Linked DNA regions of Homo sapiens. The protein of the gene in region 1 purifies or fractionates together with the protein of each later gene. This does not show direct contact. Each region holds a gene or a part of one and is shown on either strand. Other genes may lie near its edges. The genes, in order: P2RY10, INTS2 and FASTKD1.

Region 1 (7,756 bases):
CTGTGTTTGTAGTGTCCTCTTCCTAAATACTTTTTTCTATTTTAGTATGAAGAGCCTACTCTGATCACTTTATTTTGTAAGAACGGGAACCCAGAGGGTCTGGAAGCATACCATATCCTTGAGAAGAATGCTGAACAAAAAGGCTAGTCAGGGAAGATAGGGTGCAAATACAGTCTTCACCTATTCCACTGTTTTCCCAATGATCAATCCTGGTGACACATATGAAAGTTAATAAGTCTCATAGCACAATGCCTGAAGTGTGAAACTGAGACAAGAGATCCCATTCTTTGCCTCATTCCTTGGCGTCTTGCTCATTGTTTATGGCTTTGACTAAATGGGCATCAAAGAGATCACCTAGAATTTATTGAAATCTCATTTTTCTGGTTAATACACAGCACATTGACCCAAATGGCCAGTTATTTGACTGAATAAAATCTTTTCTTATGAAAATTTTCTGAAACAGAATTCATTAAAAATTTATATTATGTGAATCATTTTCCTTGTCAAGACTATAGATTCTGCACAGGGACCCTCAAGAACTGGCCAAGTGGTAAACTTGTCTCCAAAACGAGCCTCTGGGTTCAGAAAAAAGAACCTCTCTTCCAGCTACAAAGTATGTTTTTCTCACTGAAAGAAGATATACTTCATCATATGACTCAAAAAAAGTCTTAATGGAAAATATGCAAAAAATGAACCCCTTGAAAGATTTATTTATTCCTATTCGTGAAAATTCATTTCCTCTTTCATTTTACTGATTACAGTTTTAAGAGCTCTTTGAGAAAAATATTTTTTGGAAACTACTCTCTATCTTCATTCTTACAGTCATTGTCCCAATCTAGGCTCTAATTACCTCAAATGTAATGGTCTATTCTCTAAAAGAGATCTTCACCTCCTGTTTTGCCCCCTCCTGCAATCCATTCTGTATACTATTATCTCCGTGATCATTCAAAGAATTGTAGAAAGGAAGCAGGCTGTTGAGCAAGGCACATATGAATTTGAATCTTGCCTCTCCCACTTCCTTGTTTACAATCTTTGGGAAGTTAATTAATTTCTCTGTGCTTGAATTCATTAATGCAGAAAATGGGAGATAATATTAGTCCCTACTCCATAGGATTGTTTGATGAATTAAATTAGATGATGTGGGCGAATTGCCTAGAATGGTGATAGGACATGGAAAGTACTCAGTAACTAATAATTTTATTTTCCCTCCTCCGACTCTGTTTATATCCTTTCAATTACTTCCTGTATTCCATGGCTTCTATACTCTAAGGCATTTTTGTAGAACTCCATCCTCCAAGCTTCTTTCCCTCTGTTTCCAGCATGCCTTATGGGTCAGACAAAATCTTGCCCTCATTCTCACACAAACAGTACATGTTTATTCTACATGTTTATTCTCCATTCATGTCCTCAGCAATATTCTTTCTCTCTCTTGGAATCTCTTGCCTTCTCTACTCTCTTTAAATTTTCTAAACTGCAGACACTCAAATGTTTCTCCACAGATTTTGTTATTTGCATACCCTCTATAGTTTTGTGGGGTTTTTGTGTAGTTTTTTGTGAATAATCACAGTATTTAAAATTTAGTTACCTACTTTAGCCTCCTCTTAAGAAATATTATCTAAGAAATCATAAATTTGTATGGATAATTTTATTATATTTTAAAGGTTTAAAATAAATATATAGCTTTAAATTTTTAAGCTTTTCTTTGTACCACCTAAAATAAAAAAATCTTGGTATGTCTCCACTAGGACATTTTATTCTCTGGGAAACACTGCTTAAAGCAAAACTTGCCCATCAAGAAAGGACCAGAAAACCTTCTCCAACAGGTTCAGCCCATGGTTAATTTATCTTCTTAATTTCCATACAATTTAACAGTCAAGTATGTACTGTGCTTCATTTTCTAACTATTTTATGAATAATTAACTTGTCACATAAACTGTAGACTCTTGGAGGATAGGAAACATATTTTTTGTTTCCCAAACTCAGCCTTCCTCCACAGCTTTGGAGAGATTTCTCATTGTTGTAGTTCATTAAGTATTTGTTAAATGATTAGTTTTCAAAAATGCATAGGAATACTCTGCAGATATATAATCAGACATGGAAAACTCTTGAAGGTATTTTACCTAAAGCAATTTAGCTTCACTAGTTCTAATTTAAAAAGAATTGAGGTTCACAGTTCACTCTGTCCTTTATTTTTCATTTTTGGATTCCACTATGTTCCAGAAAGGACTGAAAGTTGTTTCAAAGGAAGAATGTTATAAGAAGATAATATAAGTTAAAGTGGATAAAAAATAATAATGACAAAATTGGCAAAGACATAAAAATTGAGATATGATAAAAATGAATCCCACAAAGCACACCATAAAAAATCTCCACACTTGCTACCAGTAGATTCTATGTTGGTTCATGATTTTTAATCAGACTTTGTAAAAAGAGACACATGACCAATTACAAAGTCAGTATTCATAAAAATAAAATTTAACCATTTGCTTAGGAAAAACCTAGCTTCTCCTCATACTAAATCATATAGAGCTCTAGGGTTACCTAGGAAACACAATATATGGTAATGAATAACATTCTCAACAATAGCTATCACTCCTCATTTATTGATACTGTTAGAGAGAATTTAAAGCCTTTGAAGCACCAAATCATAAACTTTCCCCAGCCTATGGAAGACATAATTCATCATTTAAAGTAAACTTTGATGACATACATAAGAATAAGGAAAGAATTTAGAACTATTGGTAAAATAGTACAACTGCACTACTTTTAAGAATCTTATAATTAGGGTACTTATTACTTTGTTTTAGTTTATAATGATTTGTAAACCATAAGTCGTACCTAGTAACAAAAAGACTTTCTTTTAAAAGTTAATTGGAGATGACTGTTAGGTTATCAGCTTGCTTTGTTTCTCCACAGATTTGTTCATTATAATTGTATTAGTTTGTTTTCATGCTGCTGATAAAGACATACCTGAGACTGGGAAGAAAAAGAGGTTTAATTGGACTTAACAGTCCCATATGGCTGGGGAGGCCTCAGAATCATGGTGGGAGGAAAAAGGCACTTGTTACATGGCAGTGGCAAGAGAAAATGAGAAAGATGCAAAAGCAGAAACCCCTTATAAAACCATCAGATTTCATGAGACTTATTAACTACCAGGAGAATAGTATGGAGGAAACTGGAGGAAACTGCCCCCATGATTCTAATGAACTGCCTTCAAGTCCCTCCCACAACACGTGGGAATTATGGGAGTACAATTCAAGATGAGATTTGGGAAGGGATACAGAGCCAAACCATATCAATAATTAACACTCAAAATTTACCTGAGTTAAAATTTTTCATTTGAATTGGGACACTGACTTCTGGTTTTATTTTTCTTCCCTTTTTAGGGTCAGTGACAGAAGAAGCTGCTTGCGTGCAAGACAGAAATGAAGTAAACTGGTAGGTTTCCTTCTCGCAATGTGAAGGTTTTGTCTGTGAAATAAAGTTGGGATGTGGTGATCATAGCCAGTTGTAAGAAAAGGATTTCTTGTATTTCTGGATCCCAGGGTTTGCCTTCAAAGCTCAACAGGTCTGGAATTTTTTTGTTTGTTCAGAGAAGAATCTTACCCTAGGAAAACTGGCTCACACTAACCATAGGGAGGAACACAACTGCCAAATGGACTGAGATGTGTGTTGGTCTGTCAGTGTATTCTCTTTTCAGTAGGGATGCCAATTCAGAAACCTAAATTAACAAAAGATAGGAGCTGAATAAACATTTGAAATCAAAATTAAGAAGGGGATTGAAAGGCTAAACTTGTTTCATTTGACATACATCAGCCAGGATGATGCCAGTCTTCACAAGTTATGACATTTCCATCAATCATCCCAAGCTCTTAGTTTCCAATACTGTCAGCTTCTCTTTCCCTTACACGCCAACAGGGGTTTGTGCTGCATTTTAAACCTCGTTTCTCAAAACTACTCTCAGACTTAGTTGACACTGTAGTCCTCAAGTGTATGATCTTCCTGTATTCACATAGTTTTGAAGGCCCCATATACACTGTACATAAAAACCAGAATTTTAGTACACTGGAGGGAGACCCCGTAATCAATAATGTTCATTTACTTATTCATGCATTCTTTGAGCATTTGTTTATTTATTAATTCCCATATGTATTCATTCAATAACAATTCATGAAAATGCCTTGTGCTGGACAAATTGGGAATACAGATATGAATCAGACATGATCTTTACCCTCAAGCAGTGTGCAGTCTAGTAAAGGGATAATAAATATACAAAAATAATGAAACTATGTGTTAAATTGTGAGCCTCAAGATGAAGGGGTTGGGAGAGGGGCACTCCAGATGGAGGGAACAACTTAAGCAAAGGTACTTCTACTGTTTCTAATTTTGACTTGTATTTTTTAGGTTTCCTCAGCCTTTGCCCCTCAGGCTTGCACAAGCTGTAGCTTTCTTGTTACTAGGTAAACACTCTTTAGATTTTCCTGAAAATTTCATCTTACCATGGAACCTACTGGAATCAGTGAAAATCTAGATATGTCGGTTGTCAAGGAAGGAGATAGGGTGAGGAAGGCTGTTATATAGCCATTGTGTGAGTATGCATAGCCTCTGACTCCCTGCTATTTGAATTTCTCTGCACCAATGAAATAAAAAGAAATAAAATTTGAGTAACGTCATTTGCTCAAGGGACTTACCTTTCATTTGTGCAAATAAGGTTTCTGTGGTGAGACACCAGATAAACTCAACTTCCTCTTTCAACAACAAATGTGTCAGTTATCAGCAGGATCCATGCCGCCAGAGTAAAGCTTTCTACCCTTTACTCCCTGCAAAGAAACAAGAGTGCTTATCCCAGCTAAGCTCCAGGGTAAGTTAATGCCTAGCACCTGGGGATTGGTGGTTTCATGTGGGAAGATTGGTGTGATCATAAAAATCAGAACAGAGGTGGATGTGGGGCCAGTGTCTGTATTAAAATTGTCACTGGTTTCTCATCTCAGACATCTTACAACAGGAGCAAAGATAATTACTGTTGAGTTTGACCAGAGTCCAAAGTTAACGTTAATGCCATCAGTCCTCTTCATTATGCCAGGAGCATGGAGTCTGTGATGCAGCTCACTCTTTGATGAGGGCTCTTTAGAGAGTGGGACCAGAGAAGATGGCACAAAGTGGTAAGAAGAGTATATTCAGTGAGACTCATTGGGACAACTTGACATATTCGGCCAATAAAAGTCAATTTAATTTTTTATGGTGTATAATTTATCTAGCTGCATCGTGAAGGAAGATTTTTGGGTATAAAATCCTTGCTTTGGAAAATTTAGCTTTCAGAGATACTGAGACAAATAGTAGAAAGCAGGGTAATAGATTCTGGGGGCTGAAAGGGCCCATAGAGATCCAAATCCCTCACAATACAGTCAGGAAAACTGAGAGCCAGTGAAGTGAAGACACTTAGGTTCACTCAGCTTGTTAGTGGTATAGGTGGATCTAGGACCTGTGTCTTTAAACTCATGTTTGCCTTTTCCTACAGCAGTTTGCATCTCCCAGAGAATACTGTAAATTTATTTGTGACCCTGCCATTTTTTAGGATAGGAAAGGAGAAAGTATCCCAGATGACTTCAGAGTCTGGTCAGAGTGGTTCCTTGATCCTTTGAAAGCTAATTTTGACCGAAGTTCAGCCTTACTGGATAGCAAAGCCCATGAGTGAGGCACTCATTTTTTCAGTTATTATTGCTATTACTCTGAATACTAGCACCTCTCTCCTTCTGAGCTAAGATGACTAAATCAAAAGGAGACTTTCAGCTAAGGAGTCCCTGAAGGGAGACTGTGCCAAATCATTTGGAACCAGGATAAGGCTGGATAGAATGATACCAGATTTGGCTGTGCTTTCCAGGGGAGTAGGCTCAGTTCCAAGAATCCTGCAAGTGAGAATATTTTTATTTCAGTTGTTCAAATGGATGTGTGGAGTCATTATGATGTATATTAATTGGAGAATCTATCTCTTAGCAATTGCAGCACAGTAAAATTAACCACTTATGAAAGTAGGTGATATGCAGATATACTGAGGTGGAAAATGGTGTAAACTACAGTCAGAATCAGATCACACATTTGGGGCAATTGTTTTTGCAATGGTTCCTGTTGAACACAGATTCTTTGGCCAAATGCAGTTTATTTTGGGGCTCAACTGGGAAAGTTGTAGAGTTCAAGTTGTACAGACTACTCAAATCTGAAGACATCAAATGAATAAACACATTTATGGGTTGTTTTGGTTTGAAATAAGTGAGTTGGGGTTTTAAAAGACAGGCCAGCCTGCTGGGCTTGGTGGCTCACGCTGTAATTCCAGCATTTTGGGAGGCCGAGACAGGTGGATCACCTGAGGTCAGGAGTTCGAGACCAGCCTGGTCAACATGGCGAAACCCCGTTTCTACTAAAAAATACAGAAATTAGCTGGTTGCAGTGGCAGGCGCCTGTAATCCCAGCTACTGGGCAAGCTGAGGCTGGAGAATCGCTCGAAACCGAGAGATGGAGGTTGCAGTGAGCTGAGACTGTGCCATTGCACTCCAGCCTGGGAGACAGACCAAGACTCTGGCTCAAAAAAAAAATAAAAAAAAGATAGGCTGCCTATCTATACTATAGCTCTCTGTCATGGCTCAAGCAAAGAGAACAAAGCTGTTTATAGTAAAATGAGACTTTCTAAAAGCACTAACAATCAGGGCAATGGTTCCCCGGTGGTCTATGATTTATTTTAAAAGCTTTTGGCAAAAAGGTTTATTTATTCTTCAGATCAGTATATTTTGTGGAGAAGTTTTCTCCTAGTATCAGTTCATATACATCACAGGTAGAGTGATCAAATAGATAGATCAATACATAAGGAGTCAGAAGTCTGTGTTATAGTTCAAGTTCTGCCAATGACTGGTGTGGCCTTCGGTGAGTTATTTCATTTCTGTGCATCTCAATAATCTCATCTATTATAATGGGAGAGGGCTTGGAATAGATGGTTCCTAATTTCCTTCCTAGCAATCCAATGATTTGAGTTAGACTGTTAGATACCTAAGAATAGTTAAATGTTATGGAGTGGTGAATAATGGGGCCATAATAGGGAAATCTATCTAGAGAGGACATTCTGGAAATGTAGTTCAGATCTCCAAGAGAACTGAGTATCCTTTCCCAATTGCCATTATATTTCTTTCAGGTAATGTTATCATGACAGCTTCAACTTTTAGACCACAGGCAAATGCTTTGTAAGTAATTTCCCTTTTTTAAAAATGAGAAAATGCAAGACAAAAGATAAAACTTTCTGAAATCTAATTTCCACAGTGACAATGACACTCAGTTGGCATTTCTCAATCTTTTAAACCCAAGGTTCCCTTTGAGAAACGTAAACATTTCACTACAAGGTTACTGTGAACTTGCCTTCCTAGGGACCAGACCCTGGACTTGTAGAAAAATCTGCTCCATCACATTGACATTTTCCAAGTACTAAGTGCCCAACAGTTAAGAGGATTTTGTAGATCTGTACTTTCACAGTTTGTATTGTAGAAACAATAATGACATTTTTTATTTTGTTTTCCAAATATATTTGTTATAATAAGGAATATGTTTTATCAAGTAACACTTATTTTCTACCCTTTAACTTTAAAAATTACTGCTCTAGATATTCTAGTCCTCTGCTACAACTACACTTCTTAGGGGATTTTCTAAATCCAGAAATGTACAGGATCCAACCAAAGGCCCTTGGAGATGACTCTGTGTACAAATAAAGAGGAAA
Region 2 (4,463 bases), on another chromosome or scaffold:
ACAGGTATGTAGCCAATCAACATCAACAAACATCTGACATAAATTATTATAGTTCCTATATTTTCTGCATTTAGTGATGCAATATGTTTTTTCTGTCACTCTGAGACAGTATGATACAATATGTGTTAAATACTAGTTTAACTTATGCCGTCTTTTGAATTCTTCTTTTGGAAACTTCTGTTTACAAATGTGATTTATAGTGTAGTGGGAATGAATAGGTAGGCAAATTGTATTTTTCATTTTGTGAATGAGTATATATAGATTTGTAAATATAAGCTTTCTGTATTTTATAAATGGAAAACAAATACACTTTCAGAATGTAATTGTATCAGTAGATAACAAATGTTCATTTATTACAAATGCTCAGAGTTCCAGAAAAATATCATCATATGTATAAATGAAAGATAAATGTATTAGATGTCTTCATAAGTTCTAAAACATATTCTGATATTTTAACCACCTTCTGGTTTGTAGAATAAAATGGTCTGAAAATAAACTACTTTAAAATATATGAACTATAATGCAACCCTTAATGTAATGGCATAGTTAACTTAGTATTCTTTCTCATTATAATATTTCCATAATACCCTGTTGTTTTTCTTTTCATCGTATTTATATCCTGTTATAATTATTTGTAGTGATTAAGAGTTTACACTGCCTGAATTCAATCTCAGCCCCACCACTAACTGGCTTGTGATCTTTAACAAGTTTCTTAACCTCTCTAACCTTTTTTTAAGAGTTTTCTCATATATAAAATGAGTGTCATAATAGTACTTTGGTCATTCATAAGATTGTAGGAATTCAATGAAATAATGCATGTAATGTACTTATTGCAAAACTTGTGCATAATAATTTGTATCTTGGATAAAGACTGAGACTACTAGATTGTGAGCTTTCTGAAGACGGGTTGGCTGTGTTTAGAGAACTTCATATCTCCAGCACAGAGCATAGTTCCCCTTAGTATGTTGTGTAAGCTGTGTTGAATTTATATTTGTAAACTAAAATATTGTTTCATTTTTTTCCAACAGTTTTAACACAGGCTAAGCGGTATGCTTTTTTTATGCCAACTCTGCCAAGTTTGGTCTCTTTTTGTCGAGCATTTCCTCCATTGTATGAGGATATTATGTCTTTGCTGATCCAAATAGGGCAAGTTTGTGCCTCTGATGTTGCCACTCAGACAAGAGACATTGATCCAATTATTACACGTAAGTGGTAACTTATTTTCAAGGGTTATCTTAATATCTCAAACAAAAAGGCCAAATTCCTTTCCAAATTTCTTGGCCTTAATGTTTTTTTTCCCTTATGTTGTAGGTCTTCAACAAATAAAGGAGAAACCAAGTGGATGGTCTCAAATCTGTAAAGATTCATCTTATAAAAATGGATCCAGGGACACTGGAAGCATGGATCCTGATGTACAGCTCTGTCACTGTATTGAAAGAACAGTAATTGAAATAATAAATATGAGTGTTAGTGGAATTTAAAACAAAATTTAAAACAACAAAAAGTTGTTTGCTGCATATACCCAACATGAATCTGCATATTAGTAACAACTCTAAACTGAATGGGAACAGTAAAGTATTGTCTTGGAATCACTAAAACAATTCAATTCAACATGAGTATAGTTTAGAACTTTATGAGAATTATGCTTGCTTGTTTCTGATTGGCACATCTTTGGATCTACTTTGCTGATATGTTTCTATTGTAGCAGCTGAGCTTTTTTTTTTTCCACTGGGAACACATGTAAGAAACTCATTATTGGAAAGGGAATTTGGCCTTGTATTTAGCTTTTGAAGTGAAGACTGCCATGCCTTTAATTTCTTATAAAAATGAGTCTGTGGGTAGCCCTAGTGTTTATTTTAACTGTGAGCTTGTAACAGAATGTGACAAAGATGCAAAGATGGGAGAGGAAAAAAGGGTAAAGGGAAAGGAGAATTAAGGAAATAATAGGAGTTAAAAACACAAGTAGAAATCTCAAAGATTTGCAGTGCAAGTAATAGTAATGCAAGTTGGAATTCTAGTTCTCAAGAAAGAGTATTGAGAAGACTTTTAAAAAGGCAAGTAGCTTTTGTAAATGATTTCTGTGGAAATACAGATGAGGATTTAAAGATTTCACATATTTGCTTCAATTTTTATTAATATATGAAGCCATATGTTTAAAGAGATACTTGAATAATTTGGAATTTTAAGATACTGGTGTAAAAGTGTTTACAGAAACATCTTTGTTCAAAGAAGAACCTGAGAGATCTCATTTAGTTTTATGTTTTAAATTTATTTTTATAATGCTTTATTAACTTACCTAATGCTCAGAGGGGGGAAATATGTATCAAATTAAATGAAGGTAGAGCAATAAAACCCACTGGATTAAAGAGCTCTTGGTTTGTCATCAGGATTATAATTCATATCTTACTTTGAGAAGATCTTTGAGTAAGAAAATGCAGTGTTTGAACCTGAGGAAAAGTTAAAGTGTAGAAAATATTGTCTTGCCGAAGGATTTTGCAGTCCTCTGTCAGTAACTTCCATTGATTAGGCAGACATATTCAGGTAAACCCTAATCATTAAAAAAAAATTATCAATGTAGAAAGTAATTCCCTTTTTTCTCTCTGAGATATACCTCAATCACACACTTCCCCACCCCCACTTGAAACAGACCTCTTCACTTGTGTTTTTTTTTTTTTTTTCCTGAGGTGGAGTCTTCCCCTGTTGCCCAGGCTGGAGTGCAGTGGGATGATCTTGGCTCACTGCAACTTCTGCCACCTGGGTTCAAGGGATTCTCGTGCCTCAACCTCCTGAGTAGCTGGGACTGCAGGCACGCGCCACCTGTATTTTTGTATTTTTAGTAAAGACGGGGGTTTGCCATGTTGCCCAGACTGGTTTTGAACTCCTGGCCTCAGGTGATCTGCCCACCTTGGCCTCCCAAAGTGCTGGGATTACAGGTGTGAGCCACCGCACCTGGCCAGACCGCTTCACTTGTAAAAGAAATTAGGCTAATAAGAAGGTGTAGTTTTTGAGAAATGAAATTTAACTTTAGCCTTTTCACTAGTAAATAGTCACATCTCATTTTCTTCCTTTGTAAAATGGGGTTACTACTGGCCCTACCTCATATTCTATGAGAATGAGTTTGTAGCTGTTTCAAATCATGAAGTGCATAGTATCACATGTGATAGAATATTTATAACTTTTTATTAGATGCTTAATGTTCAATTAAGTAATTTTGATGTGAAAAATAAAAGTAATAAAAGTATCTTAAAAATAGCATAAGAATTTTCATATTTTTAAACAAGGCAGTTTTGTAGTCCCTTAAGATTAAATACAACTGCTCCTTTTTTTTTTAAACTGAGGCCTTGCGATATTTTGTGTGAATAGATATGCCCTAGGAGTTCAGAAAAAGTTAAAAGTATGTTTTCTAATTAAATGCAGTGCACATTCCTGGATCAATATTCAAAGACTGGTCATAACCTGCTGTGTTAAAATAATCACATATGCTCTTTTTCATCAGATTTGTTGATGATGTAAATAAAATGTGTAAATATATTAGTAAATGTTAATATTCATGTATTTTAAGTTAAGGTTATAAAATTTGTCACAATGTGTTTTTTTATTCAAGTGAAAACAGATGTGTGCAGCTATTTTGAATATTGGTTTATAAACATTCATATTCTTTATCAAACGAACCTGTAGTTTTTGTGTTTCATTCCACTAGAGTTAACCTGAAGGGAACGGTTCAAGGGACTGTATTCGAGGTCTGTATGGCTCCAGGGCCTACGTGTATCCCTTTCTGTTATGCCACATACATTAAATGGCAATGCAAGGTGAGAGCCAGTTGAAACTCTTAGTAATTTAGGAGAGGAAAATGAGAGTAGTTATACTAGAGCAGTTACTCAAAAGAGTTGATTTTTTTTTTTTTTGAGACGGAGTCTCGCTCTGTCTCCCAGGCTGGAGTGCAGTGGCGCCATCTCGGCTCACTGCAAGCTCCGCCTCCTGGGTTCACGCCATTCTCCTGCCTCAGTCTCCCGAGTAGCTGGGACTACAGGCGCCCGCCACCACGCCCGGCTAATTTTTTGTATTTTTAGTAGAGACGGGGTTTCACCGTGTTAGCCAGGATGGTCTTGGTCTCCTGACCTGGTGATCCGCCTGCCTCGGCCTCCCAAAGTGCTGGGATTACAGGCGTGAGCCACTGCGCCCGGCCAAGAGTTGATGTTTTAAAAATTATAAAAGAGAAATGACAATTTGAAGGTATTTTTAAGGATTTATTTTTAAACATTATCCTTCCTTTCATTGTCTTAACAGTAAATTACTTCATCTTTGCTCATTCATATGTATTTTCACATTACTGAATCCCTAACACCCAGTTTGGGGTTTGCTTTGCCTTTTTTCACTTAACCTTATATGGGATTTTTTCTTGCAAGTTTAATTTTTATAAGTTTATTGGCTTCATAATGTATTGAATTCATCTGTCATAACCA
Region 3 (7,347 bases), on another chromosome or scaffold:
TGAGACAGGAGAATCGCTTGAACCCGTCTGGGGCAGAGGTTGCAGTGAGCCGAGATGGCACCACTGCACTCAAGCCTGGGCAACAGAGCAAGACTCTGTCTCAAAAACAAACAAACAAACAAACAAACAAAATTAGCTGGGGCATGGTGGTGGGCGCCTGTAGTCCCAGCTACTCAGGAGGCTGAGGCAAGAGAATTGCTTGAACCAGGGAAGCAGAGGTTGCAGTAAGCAGAGATAGTGCCACTGCACTCCAGCCTGGGCAACAGAGTGAGACTCTGTCTCAAAAAAACAAAAAAAAAAAGAAAAGAAAAACAAAGTAGAACATAAACAGTGGCTTAAGCATTAATTCCTTATTTCTTCAAAACAACTGGTAGATTAAAGAAGAAAACCATTTTTCCTTAGAAAAAAATAGGTGCTTGTGAATGACAACAAACTTAACGTCGTAAATTTCAGAAAAGATACCTTTTAATCAGACATGAGTTTCTGCTTTCCATATCTCCCATTGCTCCCAACACTGCCAGGGCTTGCTCGCCAGTTAGGTCCTCTGACATCAATAACATAGTTGATTTAAGTCTAGAAGCAAAAAAAAAAAAGTTTTTGGTTGAAAGACTGAAAATTAGCTTGCAATTTTTTTTAAATAACAGTTCTTGGGTAACAAATAGGAAAAAAAATATAAACAAAAACTGAATCCAATATATAATTCTAGTGTTCTCCCCACATTACTCGAATATAAAATATTACTGAATAAAGAAAAATATATTGTCTTCTTCAATGAAATTCAGGCCTCATTATAATCCAATCTTAAACTGTTTGAAAAATACAGGTAAAAGATATTTTAAGATTTTCAAATAATACAAGGTTATAATGGTTATAAAATACTATGATTCAGTGAAATTATTCAATACTAGAGAGCTAAGAAATGAACAGTTGATATTCTGACAATTTCCCAAATGTTTTAAAACTGAATAGGAACATCTAGGAGTCAATAAACCTGCATATTATCAGAAATCTCATATACTAAGCACTTGATATAACAGTATAAACTGAAAATTAACAAAGCTGGTCCATTTTGACTATGATTAGTTGTCATTTGAACTATCCAAAGTAGTGCAGTAATGTTAAGTACCATGATACGTGTATTTTTTAGAATCATTTAGAAAGCAAGCTCGAAACGTGACATCTGATAGGATAAACTAATTGTCTATTCACATGGATAACTCCATGCCATCCTTTCCACCAACCTTTTCAAAGGTTTCAAACCCAGTTTCTCCACAAACTTTTCCCAACCACTTCAGTCTATATTTTTCTCTCACTTCTGTCTGCTCACAGCACTATCCATATCACTAATTTTATTGTTTCTTCATAAACTATGTTGTTACAGTATTTACATATTTCAATTATATCTATCCTCTCAATTGCAATATAAATTCCTTGAAGACAGACTCAGTTAAACCCAACTGTTTTATTGCTTTAGCACTGAGATTTTAACAGTACTTGGTGACAAAAAACGGTTCCAATAAAGTTTGTTCGTGTGTGTGTTTCTTCGTCTGTTTTGAGATGGAGTCTCACTCTGTTGCCCAGGCTGGAGTGCAGGAGCATGATAGCTCACTGCAACCTCCGCCTCCCAGGTTCAAGCGATTCTCCTGCCTCAGCCTCCAGAGTAGCTGGGATTAGAGATGCCCACCATTGCACCTGCCATCACTCCCGGCTAATTATTTTTTGTATTTTTTTGTTTGTTTTTTGAGACAGAGTTTCGCTCCTGTTGCCCAGGCTGGAGTGCAATGGCGCAATCCTGGCTCACTGCAACCTCAGTCTCCCAGGTTCAAGCGATTCTCCTGCCTCAGCCTCCCAAGTAGCTGAGATTACAGGTGCCCACCACCACGCCCGGCTAATTTTTTATATTTTTACTAGAAACGGGGTTTCACCATGTTGGCCAGGCTGGTCTCGAACTCCTGACCTCAAGTGATCCAACCGCCTCAGCCTCCCAAGGTGCTGGGATAACAGGCATGAGCCACCACACCCGGCCCTTTTTTTTTGTATTTTTAGTAGAGTCGGGGTTTCACCATGTTGGCCAGGCTGGTCTCAAACTCCCGACTTCAAGTGATCTGCCAGCATTGGCCTCCCAAAGTGCTGAGATTACAGGTGTGAACCACCGTGCTGGGCCCCAATAGTTTTTTTTAATAATCACCTTGTTTCCATCTTGATATAGTCTTAAGATGTGCTCTTAAATTTTTTCATATAATTCAAAGTACTTTTTTTTTTTTTTTGAGTCAGAGTTTCGCTCTTGTTGCCCAGGCTGGAGTGTAATGGCGCGATCTTGGCTTACTGCAACCTGCACCTCCCGGGTTCAAGCGATTCTCCTGCCTCAGCCTCCCGAGTAGCTGGGACTACAGGCGCTGCCATCATGCCCGACTTATCTTGTATTTTTAGTAGAGACGGGGTTCCTCCATGTTGGTCTGGGTGGTCTTGAACTCCCGACCTCAGGTGATCCACCTGCCTTGGCCTCCCAAAGTGCTGGGATTACAGGCATGATCCACCGCACCCAGCCACAAAGTACTCTTAAAAAATAAAACTTTCTCCGTAAAGTTTTCCCTAACAGAGTAATGATACAGATTCCCCTATTGTGCAAGTCTTGGAACCCCTGCTTAAGTGAATCTACTAATCATACTTATGTGTTAGGACTATTATATAAAATTCTTATTTTTTTCTTTTATTTTTTCTTTTGAGACAAGGTTTCATTCTGTGCCCAGGCTGGAATTCAATGGCGCAATGTCAGTTCACTGCAGGCTCAACCTCCTTGGGCTCAGGTGATCCTCATGAGTAGCTGGGAATCTAGGTGGGCACCACCACATCTGGCTAATTTTGTATTTTTTTGTACAGACAAGGTTTCATCATCTTGCCTAGGCTGGTCTCAAATTCCTGGGATCCAGGGATCCACCTGCCTCGGCCTCCCAAAGTGATGGGATTAAAGGCGTGCAACGCCGTGCCCAGCTTGTAATTCTAAATATTTCATACAATTATGCTGGGTGGGGGAAGTTTATGTCTAGTATAAATCCAGTCACATGGCCTAGGAAGAGAAACTCTTATCTATTAACCGTATTTGTATGTTAATTTAATATTTGCTCATCATTATATTTCAAATATTACTACCTACATCAGTATCTAGCAAAACTGGAAATTCCTAAATGAGAGGCGCCACACAAAATTTGCTCAAACCTGACATGGGAACATATGCCCAGTGCATAATAAATGCTTTGATGATTATTGTGATGAAGACAGCAAAGCATAAAATGGCCCTCTGCTATGACTACTATAATTCTAAATATTCCACAGACTTACACTGGGTGGGGGAGTCTTATATGTGTAAATCCAGTCATGTAGCACAAAAGGGAGAATAAAAACACATGGCGTTTCCCCTCATTTTTTTTCATGTTGGCCCAGTATCAGAGGTTTACCTTTCAGAACACAGCAACAGACTAAGAGTTTGAGATGTAAATTAGAATAATCAGAAAAAGAATCAAGGAGCAGAGCATAAGAGATTATTTTCCCTTCCACAACCTAATAGGGTGATATTTGTACCTTCCAGAGCTGCAAGGAGACCTAAGCTTGAAGGCTCCACGTATTCACAACAAAAAAAGTAATGCATTTTAAACTGAACTTACTGTTTCTTTTCTTCAGGTCCTGCAATGGGTCCCAATGCTACAAACAATTTTACAAAGCTAGCAGGATGATTACACAGAGGAATCATTTCAGTTAGCTTCTTTTTAGCCATTATAATAAATTCAAAACTATTAAATTGTAGAAATTTGTATACACTAAGTATTTTACTGATGGAATCCAAATCAAGGTGGTCCACATTACTTAAAAATACGTTATTACATCTTTCTAATAGTGGTTGATAACGATATCTAACATTTCGAAGAAACTTTGCTATGCTTTTTGCAACGTTGACCTCAGAAGAATCTATGGTGTCAAAAAGAAGTTCTGTTTTGTTCACCAGTTGTTGTTGAAAATGTCGTGATATTAAAGAAGATATGTTGACCATCAAGACAGACAAGGAACTGAAAAAGAAAAAAGATGCAAAGATTTTTACATCAATTAAGAATGATCAATTCTTTTTTTTTTTTTTTTTTTTTTTTGTAGAAACAGAGTCTTGCTATGTTGCCAGGGCTGGTCTCAAACTCCTGGGCTTAAGCAATCCTCCCACCTCAGCCTCCCAAAGTGCTGGGATTACAGGCATGAGCCACTGCACCCAGCCACATAAGTGTATTTTTTTTAAAAAAAAGGCAAGGGGCTGGGCATGGTGGCTCATGCCTGTAATCCCAGAACTTTGGGAGGCCGAGGTGGGCAGATCACTTGTGGTCAGGAGTTTGAGACCAGCCTGGCAACATGGTGAAACCCCATCTCCACTAAAAATATAAAAATTAGCTGGATGTGGTGGCGAGCACCTGTAATCCCAGCTACTCAGGAGGCTGAGGCAGGAAAATCGCTTGAACCCAGGAGGCAGAGGTTGCATCATTGCACTCCAGTCAGGGAAACAGAGGGAGACTCCATCTCAAAAGAAAAAAAAAAAGGCAGGGAAGTAGGGTGGAGTGGGGCAAGAAGAGCAGGAAACTACTATAATTTAATTTTACCAAAGTGCTAATCACTTTGTAAATATGAGAGAAAAAGCTGTATCTGAAACGCCAAAGACAATCATAGTACTGGATTATGAAGGTTAGCATTGACAGTAAGTAATCTTATGTTAAAAACAAAACAAACCCTCAAACCACTGGTATGAAAACCAGAGAAACTCCTTAAATGTTAGTTTCAAATTAATAGTTCCTTGACATTCAGCAAATGTAACTATTAACTCTCCTTTATGAAACTGAAAAGAAAGTATTCCCAGATGGAAAGAATAAAAAAGACATAATTGTATGTAAAATTTGTGAATTTGTTTATAAATTAATTATAAATTAATCCATTATAAATTATTAATCTATTATAAATTAATTATTAATCTATTATAAATTAATTATTCATTATAAATTATTTATTAATTTATTGTAAATTATTTATTAATTTATTGTAAATTATTTATTAATTTATTGTAAATTATTTATTAATTTATTGTAAATTATTTATTAATTTATTGTAAAATAATTATTTATTAATTTATTGTAAATTATTTATTATAAATTATTTATTTATTGTAAATCAATTATTTGTTAATTTATTATAAATTAATTATTAATTTATTGTAAATTAATTATTCATTAATTTATTGTAAATTAATTATTCATTAATTTATTGTAAATTAATTATTTATTAATTTATTGTAAATTAATTATTTATTAATTTATTGTAAAATAATTATTTATTAATTTATTGTAAAATAATTATTTATTAATTTATTGTAAATTAATTATTTATTAATTTATTGTAAATTAATTATTTATTAATTTATTTTTTGGTTTTTTTGGATTTTGTTGTTGTTGTTTCAAGTTTTGTTACTGTTTTTTTTTCGTTTTTTGTTATTGTTGTTTTGAGACAGAGTCTTGCTCTGTTGCCCAGGCTGGAGTGCAGTGGCACAATCTCAGGTCACTGCAACCTCCACCTCCCAGGTTCAAGTAATTCCTGTGCCTCAGCCTCCCGAGTAGCTGGGATTACAGGCGCCCGCCACCATGCCCAGCTAATTTTGTATTTTTTGTAGAGATGGGATTTTTGCCATGTTGGCCAGGCTGGTCTCGAACTCCTGACATCAAGTGATCCACCCACTTCGGCCTCCCAAAGTGCTGGGATTACAGGTGTGATCCACCATGCCTGGCCAATGAATTCATACTTAATTTAAATACTTCTTGGGTTTACTTCATGATATAATAATAATACCTACTATCCATTACTGAGAAACTTCTATGTTCTAGATACTTATTCAGAGGCCATTTTCAGTGGGTTTCTGACTGCCTTTGTTCAGAACTATCTTTTCAAGGATGTTTGCATAGCAAACAGCCTAGGAGAATAGAGATAATGTCTCCTGTTGGAGCAGAGTAGGCATGCTTTATTATAAAAGATTCAGGTTTCCTAAGCTCAGAGCTCCTCTCCTGGATCACAACCCATTATGGGAACGAGAGCTCAGGGAATCAACACAAGAAAATTCTGGTACTCTGCTACTGCTATTGCTATAAAAAACAAAGTCCTCTCTCTGACCTCGGAGTCTCAGGCCTTCCTACGGCACACGTAGGAAAATGTGGCAGGCAAACTTAGCTTGCAAATAGGTAAAAACTCAGATCCTCCACAGACCTCAACAATATTGTATTACACTTTATGTACCTTATGTCTAATCCCCACAGCAATATTGCAAAGTAGCTATTACTATCCCTCTTTTGCAGATGAGGATAACGAACTTCCAAGAGCTTAAGTAACCTTAAGTCACATAAACTAAGAGTAGCAAATCTGACTGCATCCACATCCAAAGCCCAGGATCTTTCCACCACAACACAAGATTCCCTAAATAAATTTACCTTAAGTCCTGTGTGGTTTCCAAGTTCCTATGAACAATATCAGCTATTTTTCCCATTAATGGACTAAAATACAAATGCTGATCTGCTAGGCAAGAGGAAAATTCTGAGAGCAGTTTAATATCAAACCTATTAAAGGAAATATACAAAGGAGAACATTAGTATTTACTTTCACTTAAAACACATAATATATAGTTATAAAATTAAAAGCAATCAAAATAGTAAATTACATAAAATTTTTTTTCTAAAATGTTATTATTATAAAAGTAACATGGCAACAGTTAAAAAGTCAGATACTGTAGAAAGGTTTTGAAAGGGGGAAAATCACTAAAAATTATTTGAATGATTTACTTAATTTTTTTAGATGACAGAACAATTTTGACTCAAGGTTGCATATTAACAAATATAATGGCTGCTACTACAACAGTGCTATGAATTTTTTTAATAGGAGAAATAATCCAATTTCTTCAACAAGAAAATGGCAAGACAAAAGAGAGGAAAAAGGAACTGTTATAGATTTTATGACTTTGAATTCACTAAAAAACAAGCATAAGAAAATTCACAGCAACACATATGTAATAGCAAAACCCTGCAAAAAACCCGAATGTCCATCAAGAGTACAATGGATAAACTGCACATACTCATACAATAGAATAAAATTATGGAATCATACAACATAATGGATAAATCCTTAAAACATACTGAGCAAACTAAACTATAAGGGTACATACTATAGGATTCCATTTCTATAGAAACAATTTATGGTGTTAGAGGTCAAGATCCTTTTTGGGTGAGAGGACTAGAAGAGAACATGAAAAGAACTAATGATGTTGTTTCCTTATCTTGGTGC

The links.
Region 2: the proteins of P2RY10 (region 1) and INTS2 purify together in Homo sapiens (co-immunoprecipitation; 2 studies listed by BioGRID and IntAct, with this or other methods). This does not show direct contact.
Region 3: the proteins of P2RY10 (region 1) and FASTKD1 purify together in Homo sapiens (co-immunoprecipitation; 2 studies listed by BioGRID and IntAct, with this or other methods). This does not show direct contact.

The regions. Positions count from the first base shown.
Region 1 is NC_000023.11:78,940,635-78,948,390, forward strand, and holds the start of P2RY10 (putative P2Y purinoceptor 10), read left to right. Parts: upstream 1-4,756; 5' UTR 4,757-4,861; intron 4,862-5,083; exon of another isoform or gene 5,084-5,149; coding exon of another isoform or gene 5,150-5,162; intron 5,163-7,178; exon of another isoform or gene 7,179-7,180; coding exon of another isoform or gene 7,181-7,229; intron 7,230-7,756. UniProt on the Homo sapiens protein: Putative receptor for purines coupled to G-proteins.
Region 2 is NC_000017.11:61,864,575-61,869,037, reverse strand, and holds the end of INTS2 (integrator complex subunit 2), read left to right. Parts: coding exon 1-4; intron 5-1,028; coding exon 1,029-1,205; intron 1,206-1,311; coding exon 1,312-1,481; 3' UTR 1,482-3,671; downstream 3,672-4,463. UniProt on the Homo sapiens protein: Component of the integrator complex, a multiprotein complex that terminates RNA polymerase II (Pol II) transcription in the promoter-proximal region of genes.
Region 3 is NC_000002.12:169,556,725-169,564,071, forward strand, and holds part of FASTKD1 (FAST kinase domain-containing protein 1, mitochondrial), read right to left. Parts: intron 6,627-7,347; coding exon 6,501-6,626; intron 4,062-6,500; coding exon 3,663-4,061; intron 3,657-3,662; exon of another isoform or gene 2,200-3,656; coding exon of another isoform or gene 2,189-2,199; intron 574-2,188; coding exon 463-573; intron 1-462. UniProt on the Homo sapiens protein: Involved in the down-regulation of mitochondrial MT-ND3 mRNA levels which leads to decreased respiratory complex I abundance and activity.